Linked DNA regions of Homo sapiens: region 2 is linked to region 1. Evidence: fine-mapped expression QTL. Tissue or cell type: whole blood. Region 1 holds a variant in brackets; the other region holds the start of a gene. All regions are shown on one strand. Distances are between the middles of the regions.

Evidence for each region. PIP is the estimated chance that this variant, and not a neighbour inherited with it, causes the effect.
Region 2: it holds the start of MINCR, and the variant in region 1 is fine-mapped to the expression of MINCR in whole blood (TOPMed, PIP above 0.99).

The regions. Positions count from the first base shown.
Region 1 is chr8:143,247,261-143,255,349 of GRCh38, reverse strand. ZFP41 (ZFP41 zinc finger protein) reads right to left here. Exons shown (of 3, transcript NM_173832.6): 2 at 4,010-5,660. The coding sequence starts at 5,506. The coding sequence ends at 4,910. Among named protein-coding and RNA genes, the nearest start is that of ZFP41, 4.4 kb to the right of the region's middle. RefSeq lists an enhancer at 4,166-4,666 and silencers at 7,977-8,026, 8,067-8,089. The variant C/G (reference allele first, on the strand shown) is at 3,979.
Region 2 is chr8:143,278,092-143,286,180 of GRCh38, reverse strand. It overlaps MINCR (MYC-induced long non-coding RNA), which reads left to right and starts at 4,481. Exons shown (of 3, transcript NR_120682.1): 1 at 4,481-4,699; 2 at 5,184-5,299; 3 at 5,666-6,026. RefSeq lists enhancers at 4,552-4,701, 5,998-6,640.

The sequences.
Region 1 (8,089 bases):
CTTACGACGTCACGTATTACGGTTCTTGTTCTTGGCAACCCTGTGGGGTTAAGCACTGTCAGCATCGCCATTTCACACCTGGGAAAACTGAGGCAAAGGCCCCACAGTTCCAGAGTGAGGGTCAAGTCCACAGCCCCTGACTTGAGAGCTATGCTCTTGACCCACTACGTGCGTCCTAGAAATCAAAGACATCAGATTAAAGTGTGAGTTTAGGATCAGGAACCCACCTGCCTGCTGCTAGAGAGGCTGAGGTGGTCCTGCCAGCCATGCGCTGCTGCAGGCGTCTCTGTGGGCATGACCTGGGGCTGGCATTTGGTGAGATGTCAATCCACACCTGGGAATCCGTCCTATTGGCCCTAAATATGGAAAAGATATTTATTGTGGCATTATTTATAATAACCTAGGTTGGAAACAGCCCACATGCCCATGCTGGGAAGTGGATAAGTCACCTGTGCCTTTTCGATTCAACTGGTCATTGTGCAGGCATTAAAAGTAATGCTTCCTTCCTGGCCAACATGGTGAAACCCCGTCTCTACTAAAAATACAAAAATTAGCTGGGCGTGGTGGTGCGTGCCTGAAATCCCAGCTACTCGGGATGCTGAAGCAGGGGAATCGCTTGACCGCGGGAGGTGGAGGTTGTGGTGAGCTGAGATCGTGCCACTGCACTCCAGCCTGGCAACAGAATGAGACTCTGTCTCAAAAAAAAAAAAAAAAAAAAAGTAACGCTCCCTATTGTCAGTAACGGGGAAAAGCAACGATCATACTATCATAAGTAAAATCAAACCAAATGCAGACACCACCAGGGAATGCGTGCCCGTCTCCTGGGCCATCCTAGACAGCCGTGTCCACACTTGCCACCCTCTGTGGCACATCCCGACAGACAGCAGAGGATGCCTGCTCTGAGCAGCTCCCTGTCCCGCCCCCTGGTTTCTTTCTTGTGTCCGAGTTCCTGACTCCTGACGCCGGCTCTTCCCTGCCAACAGCTAATTCTGAAGGACACTAAGACACAGAGAGCGTGTGCAAGGACTGGGAGTTGTGTTAGTTCATTGTGTGTTACTATAAAGGAACACCCGAGGCTGGGTAAGTTTTTGTAACGAGGTTTACGTGGCTGGCGGTTCTGCAGGCTGCACAGGTATCTGCTTGGCTTCTGGTGAGGCTGCAGGGAGGGAGCAAGAGACGGGAGGAGGCACCAGGCTCTTTAATGCAGGAGTCCCTGACCTCAAGACGGGTCCATGGCCTGTTAGAAGTGGGTCACACAGCAGGAGGTGGGTGGCAGGCGAGTGAGCGTTACCGCCTAAGCTCCGCCTCCTGTCAGATCAGCGGTGGCATTAGATTCTCACTGGACCACGAACCCCACCGTGAACTGCATGCGAGGGATCTAGGTTGCACGCTCCTTATGAGAATCAAATGCCTGATGATCTGAGGTGGGACAGTTTCATACTCAAACCATCCACACCACTCCCTGTCCACGGAAAAAACTGGTCCCAGGTGCCAAGAAGGTTGGGGACCACTGCTTTAAACAACAAGCTCTCCAGTGAACCTCAAGAGTGAGAGCTCACTCATTACTGTGAGGAGGGCACCAAGCCATTCTCGAGGGATCTGTCCCCGTGACCCGAATACCTCCTGCCAGGCCCCTTCCCACACTGGGGATCACATTTCCACATAAGATCTGGAGGGGACAGACGTCCAAACTATACCAGGAGCTCGAATGCACCCTTCACCTAGGACAGGATCGGCAAGCAAATCCGGCCCACCTCCTACGTTTGTAAATAAAGTTTTATTGGCACAGCCACGCTCGTTCATTCATATGCCATTGACATCTGCTGTTGCCCTACACAGCAGGGTGGGGACCTGCTCTTCACGGGAGAGCTAGTTGTTTAAAGCAGTGGTCCCCAACCTTCTGTGGTCCCCCGTGGGTGCTGAGGCACAGGCTGTATGGCTGCAGTGCCAAGAATATTTCCTGCCTGACCCTTCATCGGAGAAGCGTGCCCACCTGTGCTCTAGATTCCCCATGACTGACATTTAGCCACTCTCCTCTGTCACTCTCCGGGGACGTGCACACACCGTTGGCATGAACTGCAGACGCCACGCTCTGCGGCCAAGAGCCTCAGTGTGCATCTGCAGTAGGAGGACGTCAGTGAGGACCGCCCCGTCCCTGCTGCGCTGGTGCTGACTGTGCCTGCAGTTGACTGTGCCTGCAGTTGACTGTGCCTGGAGTCTACAATCCAGGTCGGCCAAACGTCCCAGCAAAGTCCTTCAAAGCAACTCTTCCGATCCAGGATCACACGTCACACGTGCTCTGATGCCTGCTTCTGAACAATTCACCTCCTGATATGTCCATTTCTGGGAGTGCGAGTATTCCTCTCCTGGTGACAGCTGGCTGAGGCCGTCCAGCCTCAGGACATACCGGGAACGGCTGCATAAGGAGATCCGGGCCAGGGGGCCCACCAGGATGTCCTGCCCTGTGGGGGTCAACACTGGCCGTGGTCCGCCGGCGGCATCCAGGGACAGTCTATCTAGGTGAGGCTGAGGCTGCCCGCCCCCTCGCTCCCTCACCCCCTCACCCCCATGCTGACGGCAGTGGGCTGACCACAGCCCCGGGGAGCCCCACGGGAAGACTGGCCTCCCCAGCACACGCCCAATAGTGTGAGACACAGTCATCACAGAGGCAGGTACACGACACCACGGGACTTGCCACCTACCTACCCCCATTGGGACCACGGGCCATTGAGAAGCCACGAAGGCCGTGCTTCCAGCAGCGACTGAGGCGGCAGGACCATCAGGAGGCCACAGGCGCCACGGCTCCCCTCTGGTGGTTCACCTGCTCACCTGCGCTGGGGAGGCCCCTCCAGTGTGTGTGGTCCCGAGAGCAGAACCCCCCCAGGCAACACGTCTGATGAAGGCCAACACAGCCTCAACCCAAACAAAGGCAGGGCCCGCAGGCGAGCACAGCCACACCAGCAATGCCATGGGGGCATGGCGGGGTGGGGCCTTCCGCATGGACCAGCCTGCCTGGGTCCGCAGCCAGCCCAGGCACTGAGTGTCACCCGACCTCAGAGAGCCCTACAGCCATCTGGGAGATGCTGCCCTGCGGGTCAGGACCCAGTGTGAGCAGGTGACGGGCTGGGCTCTGGGACCTGCTATATAGAAAGTTAACCAGGCCAGAGGCAAAGCTAGTGTGGGTGACAGTGTGGTTCTGGGATTTACGGGAGTTTTATTTTCCAGTTCTAGGCTATTTCTATTTCTGCGGGGAAGGGGAAGTGAGGAGACACATCTGTCAGTGCAGCCCATGGGCAGTGGGCATGAGAGAGGCTGGGAGCCGAGCAGCCTCCCCACGATACTACAAGTGGCAGCACTCAGGACCCCCTGCCATGGAACAGGCTCCTCTGTCCAGGCCAGCAGCAGGAGCAGCCGGGAGAAGAGACACACTCTGCGTGTGGAATGTGCTTCCAACACGTCTGAGTGCAGAGGGACTGAAGCATCCTCCCAGTGGGAGGGGAGGCCTGCCGAAAGGCTCCCTTTCCAAGTGACCCCACAGTGGCCAAGCTGGTATGGGGCCTACACAGACAGGCAGGAATATTACAGCCCTCAGAAAGACCGCGGCAGGAAAAATGTGTTAACCCAGTAAACGTTTCCACCCAGACAGGACTGCTCTCCATCATCCGGGCAGTGTACCCTAGTCCATTTCTGAGACTGCTCAATGGACAAGGCCAAGGCCATCTCCAGCTCGAATCGGGACCCTCCTTCCAGGACAGAATCCCCAAAGACTAGGGCCGTGATTAGTGTTTCACGTCTAAACAGCTGAAAACATAGGCGCCAACATTTCCCAATAAAAAACCTTACCTCCTGGTTTACAAAGTCATTTGCTACCCTCTTATAAACCACAGTCCCTAGAGAGCACAGGATCCCGTCCACACTGCTCCTGGATGGACACAAGGGTGGCACAGGCCTGTGGACCTGCCACTGGGTGGGACAGGA[C/G]TGGGTACAGGCATGAAGAAGTAGAACTAACCTGAATGCTGGGCTGGTCTGTGGGGCTGGGGCCCACCGCCCACGTCGGAAGGCCGAGGGGCAGATGCAGGCTGGACCGAAGCTGCCGAGGGCACCCCAGGGGCCCCACTGCATGGCTGGGACGGGAAGCTCAGCAGGTGGTGGTGTCCAAGGTCCTGAGGAACCTTTGTCCCAAGTCCATCCAGGTAAGTCAGGCCGCCTCTCTGGGAGGAAGGCTGGGCCAAGAGGGCACGTGGTGTGGCCCAGTTCCGGGGACGGGGGTCTGAGCTCAGGGACTGGCACTCCAGCAGGAGGAGAGAAGCCAGAGGACCAAGCACAGTTGGGGCACAGAGGCCGGGCAGGGACAAGCGGCCCCGGGCACTGAAGCTGGCTGGGCAGGGATGAGTGGTCCCAGGGCTCGCTGCAGAGCTCGGGGACCCAGAGGGCAGAGAGTCCAGACTGGGGCCTTCAGCGGCAGATGAAAGGCTTAAGCAGAGTGGACATCACAGGCAGGCAGCAGCGGGAAGTGCTGGGCTGCCCACTACACCAGGAGCCTCTCCTGCTGGGTGCTCTGAGGTGACCCAAACACGTCCAATGGATGGCAGTGAATACTCCCTGGTCTCTGGTGCTGAGCCCCGTTCGCCATCGGGAACTTGGAAAATGCTCTGTGGCTGCAAGGAGCCTCTGGTGGCTTCTCCATCACTGCGGTGTCTTGATCAGAGAGACTCTCTGCAGTGGAAAGGTCTCTCCCTCGCTGGCACGTTCCCACATCTGACTGGGCTGCTTTTCCGGGGGTCCCCAGGGCACGGAACACAGTGCGCACGGCCCTGCGCCCCCATCAGACGCGGGACACGAGGGAGCCACGGAGCAGGTGTCCGGCGAGGCTCGCACCGCAGGGCCCGAGTCCGCAGATGGCCCCGGCTCAGGGCTTCTTCCGAGGGTGGCGTTTCTGATGGCGGATGAGACAGGAGCTGTAGGCAAAGGCTTTCCCACAGTGCGTGCATTCGTAGGGCTTCTCCCCGGTGTGCGTCTTCTGATGTTTCAGGAGATTGGAGCCGCAGTTAAAGGCTTTCCCGCACTCCCCGCATTTGAAGGGCTTCTCTCCCGTGTGAGTCCTCTGGTGTTTGGTGACGTCAGAGCTGTGCCGGAAGGCCTTCCCGCACTGCGCACACTTGAAGGGCTTCTCTCCAGTGTGGACCCTCTGATGGCGAATGTGGTCTGTCTTGTGCTTAAAGATCCGCCCACACTCACTGCACTCATAGGGTTTCTTCCTCTGAAAAGGAATGAACACGGGAACCCCCTCAAAGTCATCTTTAAATGAAGCGTCGAAGGCATCAAAGACGTGCTCTTCGTCTTCAGGACTCAGGCAGGGCTCTGTGCGGGGCTTCCTGGGCACAGTGGGCCTCTCAGGTGGCTTTCTGTCCCCGGACACCTTCTCCTCTCTGAGCGCACTCTTCTGCACGTCTGCCTCCTCCCTTGGGGTCGGCGTCTTCTTTTTTCTGCCTGCAGGCTTCTCCATCATTCTGTTCCTTGGAAGCGTGAGGGCTAAGGGGCTGCTGACCTCTCTGTTGGCCCCACTTCCTCAATGGCTTGCTTCCCACGCACCTCTCCACACTCCCAGCGTGGGACTGATGCTCTGCACCAGGAGGCCAAGGGCCACCATCCTCTTGGTGCTGGGGAGAAGCAAGAACATGAACCTCAGATTAAAGGTTTGCCTTTCAGGGGATGTGGGATTCAGGTGCGGCCCCTCCCTTCCCATGTGTTCCCCCAAGAGTGTCTCAAACGGCATTGCTGATCTCCCCGGAGCCCCACCTGACTCTCTCCCGGCCTTTCCTTGTCTCGATGAAGGGATCAGTTGCTCACCAAGGAATCCTTGCTCCTCTGCCGGGGTTCCGGGTCTGCACACCATGTCCACAGGATCTGATGTACCCACCAACTGCCCTGCGGCTTCCCTCCTCCACCCCCGAATCCCCCTGGTTCCTGCCGTAGTCTCCTTCTCCACCATACTGGGCTTGGAACCAGTCACCGTGCTTTGAAGCTACAGGCTGCAGGGACCACACGTGCCCAGTGGAGAGTGCTTCCATCCCCCAGAGGCTGGGTTCTGAGTTCATGAAACCAGGGCTGCCCCCCTGCCATGGACCACAGCAGCCAGCAGAACCCCTCATGTCACATCCTTCCCACCTCAGCTTCCTGAGTAGCTGGGACTACAGGTGGGAGCCACCATGCCCAGTCATATTCTAAGAAATAATATTCCGTACCCTTTGTATTAGTTCTTGGTCAACCAGGCTGGAGTTTGAGGCCAGGGTTGACCCTAGGTAGAAAGTGGAGCTGATATGCATGTCGTAAGTGACACAACTCAACACATAAATACTTTGAATTCTCTTTGTTGAGAGGAGGTTGGTGGCCTTCCCTCCTCTCCCTCATGAGTGCAGGTAACACATAAACTCACTACAGATTTCCTATCTCAACAAGGAGGGTCTGGTCTTTTCTACAGGAAAATGTTTAGATGAATGTGACTCAGTTTCAGGCCAACATCACTTTCTAGGGCTCTATCTAGAGGTGGCGTGTGGGAGGAGGCAGATCAGGTGGGCGCCAGAACTGAAGATGAAGGCCACGTGTGCTGAGGGAGGATGCAGGCATAAAGCAGCATCTCTGCTGGGGTGGGCAGGGGGTGGGCCCTGGTGCCCAGGATAGAGGATCACAGCCCAAGCTGGCTGGAGTTTGAGGCCGGGGTCCAGCTCTGGTAGGAAACAAAGGTGAGAACCAAGAACCAGCACAGAAGACCAGTCGACCAGCTGTTTGCCTCATGGGCAGGGCGGAGCTGGAGAAACGGCAGCTCTCCAGGGCATGGCGGGAACCTATCTGGCTCTCTGCAGACTCCACTCCACGGCGGGGCGGGGGGTGGTTTGTGAACCCACTGAGCCTAACGGCTGCTGCCCGAGGCCTGTGTGGGGGTCCTCCATGCTGTACAGCACTGTTCCTTCTTCCAGACACTTGTCACTGCACGTGTGGCTGGTCACTGACATGGCAGTCTCCTTATGCGACAGGGTCTCCTGAAGGCGAGGATCGTATCTTTTTTATCTCCAAATCCTAGTCACATACTGTGGTCAGGGAACATTCTCCATAACGGCTCTGTCGACTCAACTTAGGCTGGCAGGTGCTAACCGGCAGAGACTGGAATGACTCACTTCTCTACACGCTGCCCACCCTGAGAAATAAAATATTTCTTAAAAGCAGAGTGGACTGGCCGGGCGCGGTGGCTCATGCCTGTAATCCCAGCACTTTGGGAGGCCGAGGTGGGCGGATCACGAGGTCAGGAGATCGAGACCATCCTGGCCAACATGGTGAAACCCTGTCCCTACCAAAACACAAAAAATTAGCTGGGCGTGGTGGCACGTGCCTGTAGTCCTAGCTACTCAGGAGGCTGAGGGAGGGGAATTGCCTGAACCCAGGAGATAGAAGTTGCAGTGAGCAAAGGTCGCGCCAGTGCACTCCTGCCTGGCGACAGAACAAGACTCCGTCTCAAACAAAAAAACCAAACCAAACCAAAACAAAAAACCCCACACGCAAAAAACAAAAACGGATTGGACCATAGCGATTTTCTTGGCCTCACCTCACAGGCCTGTAGACAGGAGTGATTAGCTAGTTACAAACAGCGCAACCCACGCTTGCCACACCCCTAAAGACTGGGGTTCTGGTTCTGTCGTGCAACTCCAGCGTAGCTCCGTCGCCTCTCTGGGCGGAGGACCCTTCACTTGTAATATGAAGCTCTGGGTATCCGTGGGCGGTAAGGGCTGCCTAGAAAACCTCACTCACCCTGGCGCCTCCCTCCACTACTTTCAGGGATCTGGGTCTCATGGAGAGACTGGAACATTAGTGGGCTTGAGATTCAGGGGCAATCTGCACTAAAACAGCCTGCTGGGTCCACGGCCTGCCAGGGGCCTGCTAGCTGTGCCAAGGCCTGAGATGCCAGGCATCTGAGCCAGGCGGAGGGGCCCGCCAGGGTCCCGTGCGTGCTCCTAGTTAGAGGCTCTCCTTTCAACGGCAGAGCCCCGCGGCCCACGTGCAGAGCTAGGTCGGCCTCGGGGCCGGCGCCCGGGAG
Region 2 (8,089 bases), 31 kb before region 1:
CAGACGAATCCATTCCTGAGAGGCCCGATGGCAGACAGGGCCCTCCAGAAGCTAGAATACCCATCAGCTGGGGGAGGGGAAGGGAAAGGGAGGAGAAGCTCTGGAAAGTTCCATGCTGTGACCTGGGGGGATTAGCAAGAGTGTAAACATGTAAACAGTCAAGCCGAGTGCTTAAAATTTGGGCATTTTCGCTATGTAAATTATACCCTAATTCAAAAAAATCAAGAACACCATATCCCAGGAAAACTTAATATAAAATATTGACACCAGCACGGATCTTGGTGAAGCTATTCAAGGTTATGGATGAGGAAAGAATGACCAAGGCATCCAGGCAGAAGAGGAGCGTTTCAGAGAAAGGGCAGAGGCCAAGGGCTTCCCAGTGGTGCAGGCTCAGCACAGTCCTGCAAGGAAAAACCTAAAACCCAACCACATGCCCCAAGCCCTTGCTATTCGCCATGCCCTCCGTCGAGTGTAATGGCTACAGAGGGCATTCTAGAGCTTTCAGGAGCTCAGCATGCAGCCCCTCTTGCCTGCCCCCGTGGAGCCCTCTCCCCAGATGGGAGCTGGGCTCAGGGTCCTGCTGGATGGGCACATGGACCGAGGTCCTGGGAAGCCGCCTGCTCCCACTTGCATCCTGCCTGTTACTCTCGTCACCCAGACGCTGTTCACCCAGGCTCTGCAGCAGGCGCTGGGCTGGATGGTCTACCGTGTAAACGAGGGGATTTCCCATCCCACGGGCTGCTTGAGGAGCAGCAGCCTCACAGAATGGCCATGCACAGAGTGCAGGGCGGCAGGACGGGAAGGCCCTGCCTGGAGTCAGGCACACGAGTGCCACAGTAGTGGCATGATTTTGCCCACCTGAGACTCAAGGACTGGGACACCTGTCCCTCCTCCTCCACCCACGCTGCGGGGAACTGCATGGCTCCTCCGGGCGGGGACCATAGCTTTCCGCCTCAACGTACCTGGGGCTCGGCATGCTGCGTTGAATTTTGGAGTGGATGAGGAGTGAGGGTGTGGCAGGGCGGCTGGAGCTGCCCAACTGCTGAAACTGCTGCAGGTGCCACAGCGGCTGGCTCCCTGAAAGCGTCCTCCTGCCTCTGAGACCGTAGCGCAGGAGGGTGCGAGTGCACCTCCGCAAGGCCTGACGCTGCTGATCCACTTCCTCTCCCCACGATGGGGACACACTTGGCGACAGTTCCATCTGGGGTAAAAGACCCACCAAAAGGTCGCTGGCATGGGCACTCCAGGGACACCAAAGTGGAGTCTGGGAGACCCCTCGGCTTGTGCGGGGAGCATTCCTCCCCGAAATGCTCGTCCACTTCTGGTTACAGCAATCTTTGAGGGCAGGGAGGGTGGCCAGCAGGGGGCATTGTGGAGCAAGCACGTGGGCCTCGGATCCAAGCCTGGGTTCAAATCCGGGCTGTGGGACGTCCTCACCAAGTCTCGATTTCCTCCCGTAAATGAGGGATGCTGGCGCCCCTCTCGCTGTGGGGGAATAGGGCTTCCAGCACTGCTCCCAGCAGATCTCAGACCTCAGGACGTGAAGGTTATTTTAGGGACAAGCTAACCATGAAGTCTATTTAGTGTAACAGCAAGAGCTGCTAAAAACGTGCACAGACATTCCTTGTACAGCCTGAGTATCCCTTATCCAAAATGCTTGGGACCAGAAGTGTTTTGGCGGCCGGGAACAGTGGCTCACGCCTGTAATCCCAGCACTTTGGGAGGCCGAGGCGGGCGGATCACGAGGTCAGGGGATCGAGACCATCCTGGCTAACACGGTGAAGACCCGTGTCTACTAAAAAAAAAAAAAAAAAATTAGCTGGGCGCGGTGGCGGGCGCCTGTAGTCCCAGCTACTCTGGAGGCTGAGGCAGTAGAATGGCGTGAACCCGGGAGGCGGAGCTTGCAGTGAGTCAAGATCGTGCCACTGCACTCCAGCCTGGGCGACAGAGCGAGACTCTGTCTCAAAAAAAAAAGCTTTGGCTTTTTTTGGGGAATATTTGTACCATAGTTAGCAGGTGAGCCTCCCAAATTCCCACATCCGAAATCTGAAGTGTTCCAGTGAGTATTTCCTTTTGTGCGGCATGTCAGCTGCTCAAAAGTTTTGAATTGGGGGTGTTTGGATTTGGGATACTTAGCCCGTAGTGCTGAGGAGAAAATTTCTGTCTCTTCTATTTTTCCTACACTTCCCAAATTTCTTTAAAGAGTATGAATAAATGCTATTGGGTAAAAAGAAATCTGTTTAAAACCTGTGATCTTTAAAGACTTGACCAGGGTATCCCACGCTTGAGGCACTGCCTAGGCCCAGTGAGCCAAGCCCAGCCCGAGTCGGCAGCGCGGCCCCGCCCCCGCAAGCCCCGCCCCATGCCGAGGGCATTTCCGGGCGCTCTAGGCAGCTCGGAGGACCCGTTCGGAAGACTGGCGGGGGACCCCAGGCGAACCCAAGGGTGGCGGGCCAGGGCCGGGCGAGTGCCTGGCGTTGCTCGCGCGGCTGGGGGCCATGGCTGTGGGGCCTCTCTGGGAGGGGTCGCGAGGCTGTGAACTAGCACGGGGCTACGTTGTAGAGAGAGAGATGGGGCGTCACGGAGGCAGGGGGTGCCAGGCAGGGCGCGGCTGCCAGAGGCCCAGAGGCCGAGCTGGGCCCTGCAGGTCTGAGGTGCAGGACCCGATTCTGGCCCAAGCAGGGGCGTCCCACGGCTCGAGCTGCCCGTCCAGGTGGTGTCTGAGGAGAGCCTGGGCAGCGGCCTTGCAGAGGGCAGGCCAGCAGCTCCTGCTTTGAGGGCTTGGAGGAGAACAGATTCCCGAACCAGGCCCATGATCAATGTATTTGGGTATTTGAACTAAATCCAGATTTCCTGGCTTCCCCTGAGGCCTGCTGAATCCCTTGGGGTGGGGCCTGGGAATCTGCGTTTTCCAGTGGGCCTCTCAGGTAGTTGGGTGGTCCCTGAGTGGGTTCCCATGACCCCATGAAACAAGACCCTAGAAAACGCAAGGCAAAGCGGCCTGGTGAGTGGCCAATGGTCTACAGGAACTGGATGTGATCAGAGCGAGACCTGCATCAACTGGGCAGGGGAGGCGTGGAGCCATACCTGAGGAAGAGACCCAGCCGGAACCCAGGGAAGAGCAGGCTGTGAAAACTGGGCAGAAACTTGCGGCGACTCGGAAGACACTGCCAGGAAACCCTCCCCGGGCCTCCTGTGGGGCTTGTAGCAGCCGCAGGGGTTGGCTCTCACCTTCTAGTCCCAGCCAGGTTGTCTTGGAGTCAGCTAATGGGCAAGGCCCCTACCTCTCTTAGGATCTGAGGATGGGAGGGGCTGCGTTTTTCCAGAGGATCTGCACGTGTGCAGGCTGAGTGTTGAGACTTGATTGGTGTCAACTGGCACTGCCTGCCCATGATGCACAAAAGCTACTGTAAGAAACAGGGTCCATGTCTCCAGGGAGCAGGACCCCGTTCTGAGGCCACAACCCCGAGGGCAGTCTCCGCCTGCAGAGTCCTCCCTCTCGCACCGGCTCACCTCGTGGTGAATCCCTTGGCTACGGTTTGGTGTGAGAAAAGAGATGGGTGTTTCACTCCCTGCTGCATCCCTGGTGACGGCCCTGGCATTTCGGGGCATGAGATCTTTGCTTAAAGGTTTTGCGGTGGTCACTGCACAGGGGGTGGGGGTGGGGTCCCTTGGTGCAATTTATCCGATTCTGCTGCGTGGATGACATCCACAGTGTTCCTCTCCAGTGGGGATTATCTGAGACCTTTCCGCATGCCCGCACCCACAGTCCGCTCCCTCACGGCAGCATGAACTCAGGAGGCGGGCGTTCCCACAGTCATTACATTTGCAGGGCCTCTCTATGTCCACTCTGATGCCTGAGGACCAGCGCTTCCACGAAGGTGTGGCCACGTCCAGTGCTGCTCATTGGCTTCTCTCCTGCGGGAATGTTCTGATCCCGAACGGAGCCTGAGCATGCGCGAAACCCTTCCCACGTTCACAAGGTGCTTCTCCAGTGTTCCATTACATCTCACCTATGCACACTACATGCATACGGTTTCCACCGGCTGTGCGTGTCCCTAGAAGTCACATTCACGGCGTTTCTCCCTGGGAGGAATTCTCCCGTGCATGGCTGCTCTGAGACCATTTGCACCTGCGGCCACGCGTGGGCTCCTCGAGGCTTACAAACCAGGCTGGACTCCTGAAGCCCTAGCTGCACTTGGCACTCGGCGAGGTTTTTCTACAAAATCTCATCTCAGCCATCTGAGTCCTTCACCATTTATCTTATGAATCCGCTCGAACGTACAAGGAAGGCCTCTCTGCCCTCCTGCTCCAGGGAGGAGGTTTTGACCCTCAGCTCCACCTCTGCGGCTGGCCCGGTCTCCGCAAACCTTTTTCTGCTTGGCCAGCTGGTGCCATGCTAGGCTTTCCCACTAGGGGCGCCAGAGAAAGCGCGCGAGGCTGCGGAGGAGAGAGGGGCACACTCTTTCCGGTTTGCTTCCGGTTTTTTCCTCAGGCTTCCGGTCTGTTTGGTGCCCTGGTCGCGTGTCTTCCGAACTCTGCTGCTTCGCCCCGGCAAGAGCACTTCCTTCCGCGGCTGCTAAAACTGGTGCGCGGGTTCCCAACTTCGCAGAAGAGCTTCATCGGCCCCCCGCTAGAGACCTCAGACCGCAGCCATCGACGCCTCGCCTCGGGGATCTGTCCCCACCCTCGGGGCCAGGTCAGGGACCAGAGACCTGCGAAGCCCTCTCCTTAGGGGTTTAGTTCCCAGGCTTTCTGACCCCAGTAATTCCAAACGCTTCCCTTTGTTTCCACAGCCCTAGCGTAGCAGGTGCTCCCTGCAGTTTTTGCTTCTGAGATAGAGTTCTCTTTTCAGCTCCTTCGGTAGTCACTTCGTACATAGTGATTCATGATGCGAAATCCTCTCTGTTGAAATAACTGACGAGGCCTCTGTCTTCTGACTGGACCCTGACTTCCATGCCCTTTCCACTCTCACTCCAGTACATGCCCAAACCCCAATCTTTGTTGCTCCAGGCATTGCCTCTGTGGCGCTGTGTCCCCTCCTTTGAACTCTGATCCTTCTGCTCAGGCCCTTTCTCCCAGTCTGAAGTAAGGAGTGAAAAAATGTGAATTGTTCTACTCATCTGGAAAAGAGAACCCTGAGGCAGGAACAAGTCGTTAATTGCATGTGCGTTTGTCCACAGCTCACCATGAGTCAGGCCCTGTGCTAGGTGCTGGGATGAAGCAGTGACTGACACAGGCCTGGACCTGTCCTTGGGAAGAGTGCGTCTGTGACACAGATACTGTGCCATGTGGCAAAGTAAGCGCGTGGGACAGCAGAGCCTTGTTTGCCATTAAAGTAATATCACAAGTCTGTTAAGGTTGGAGAATCAAGTGAACATGCTGAAAAGTTATGGGGAATGTAGTCTCATAGCTGGGGGAGCTGGGGGCCTTGTCAATTGGTTCCCCCAGTCTGGAGAGCAATCTGAGAGTAAGTAGTGACACTGTGTGTGCTGAGTGTGTCTGTGGGGGTGTTTTTGGATAAAATTAACATTTGAATTTGTGAACTGAGTGAAGCAGAGTGCCCTTCATAATGTGGGTGGGCCTCATTCAATTAGTTCAAGGCCCGCATAGGAACCACCTCCTGCCTGACTGAACCGGGACCTACGTCTTTTCTTGCCTTCAGACTTGAATGGAGACATCAGCTCTTTGTGGGTCTCAAGTCTACTGGCTTTCAATCAGCTCTTCTGCTTGACAGCTGCAGGTCTTGGGACTGCCCAGCCCCCATAACCCTGTGAGTGCATTCCTGATAATAACCCTCTTTCTCTTGTCCTCCCCCACCCCACATCATTGGTTCTGTTTCTCTGGAGAACCATAATACATCATTTACTAATCAGGAAATAGATTCAGAGACATTAATAACTCATCCAACCTCACAGTTAACTGTAGAGTTGGGCTTGAAATTCCAAGGTCGATTTTCTTAGCCAATACACCATGCTACATATATGTATGTAAAAATAAAAACGCTTGTGAACTGAAAAGGGTCCAAACTTAAGCTCATTTTGGTCCTTAATTGCTAATCCATAGGCATGTTTTGGTCCTTAATTGCTAATCCATAAGCATGTTTCGGTCCTTATTTGCTAATCCATAGGCCTGCACACCTGCCCCCAAGGCCATGGTTAGGTCAGCACTTGGCCCTCCCCTTGTCTGGGGCTGCCAGAAGCTGCCTCAGAAGACCTCTCCCTGCAGCTCCAGTGCTTTAGGGTTCAGCGCCCCTCCAGGGCCTTTATTTCCTTCTGGGCTCAAAAGCAGATACTGTGCCAGATACAGATGATCACTTTCTGGGTTCCAGAACTCACATGCACCCCTTTTCCTGGTCTCTCACATTTGCTGTGACCAACCCAAGCCTCAGGTGGTCCTCTGCTGAGACTGTCCACTCACGCTGTTGACAGAGCCCTTCCAGGAGCTCTTTTTGTGGGGATTTGCTATGTACCTGGCACTGTGCAAAGAACCCCACCCATGCCGTCCTTGCAGCCGCCATGTGCGGTGCGGAGCGGGCTGCGCTAACCACCATTGTCAGAGGCAGAAACAGGCTCCGTGAGGAAGGATAAGTGTGGGTTATGGAATCAGGGCTGGCAGATCCCAAACCTTGGCTCCCAGATACCATGGGATCTTTAGGAAGATCCCTGGTCACTTCGGGGAGGAGAGAGAGGGCGAAGGCTGAGAATCGGGGTCCTGGGTCGGAGGAGGGAGAGGGGTGGTGGTGTGGGCTTGGAGGTGGTGTGGGTTGGAGATTGGCCGTTGAGCTGGAGATGCTCCAGGTGGTCTGCGTCCAGGTTCCTCTGGTGGCGGGGGATGGGGCAGAGCCGGCAGGGGTGGGACGGGGCTCCGAGCCAGCCCCGGGGGCGGCCACCCGGACAAGCGGCCCTCGTGTGACGCAAATCGAAGGAGGATGGGGAGAGGCGTGACCAAGAGGCCGAGCACAGCTCAGGGTCGCAGGCGTCCCGGGAGGGCTCAGGAATATCACGTCCGGTTCAACTGCACGCTGATAAACCCGGCAGCCACCACAAGGTAGAAAAATGCCCTTAAAAGTCCACGCCTGGGTCCTGCCGGGCCGCTCTGGGGTTCCCGAGAAATGTTGAGTGGATCAGATGGCACGTTCGAGAATCAGCCCCGTGCCCGCGGGCTTGGAGAAGGCACTGAGGACACTGGGAAAGACGTAAATGCCATTTCAGCGCATCTCGCGGGCCCTGCCCAACGAGGGAGGACACAGAGACCTTGCAGAGAGTTTAGGACCCGGCGCGGAGGAACAGCCCTGCCTGGCCCAGGACCCGCCGCACCCCACTTCCTTCTCCGGGAAGCCTCCCGTCAGCTGCCGCTGCGGGAGTCTCGTGCGGGCTGCCGCGAGTGCGCATGGCCCCGCCCCCTCCCCGCCCCTCCAGGAGCTGCGGCCACTTCCGGGACTATCTGGGACGGCGTGGAGGACCGCCGGGCTCCCCTCTCCGGTCGCAGCGGGCGGGAGTCCAACCCGGGCGCCGGGGTCGCCCTCTCCAGGTCTCACCTGCCCTCCTGCTGTGACTCCTCCAGAACCCCCGGCCTGGCCCCCAGGTGTGCCCGTGGTGGGCCTGTGAGATCACTGTCCTGTTGAAGACGAAGGCTACCGTCCCCGCTTTTTGGCGGTGTCTGCGGGGGCCTGCGCAGCGCGCATCTGATGTCATCAGCCCCCAGCAAGCCCGTTTTCCAGAGAAGAACCCGGAGGCTCCGAGGTGACTCGTGGCTTGCTCGAGGTCACACGATCAGTGACGGCACCAGATGAATCCCCTAGTAGAGCCAGCACCTCGGCCTGGCTGCCCACGCGTGTTACTGAACAAGGAGAATGCAGGCGTCCTCACCCTTACCTTTCAGGCAGACAGTCTGAACCCCAGGCCCACCGCACACCAGCAAGGACGCCTCAAGTAGGCGCCTGCCTCCCAGCTGACTTCGGACAGACACACTGACCTCCAGCCCGCACCCCTAAACTCGTTCTCACCTGGCAGAGTGGGGCGTCCAGAGCGCTGGTGGCCATAGGGCCCCCAGAGCATGGTCTGGAGAGGGTGGCGGGGGCTGGCAG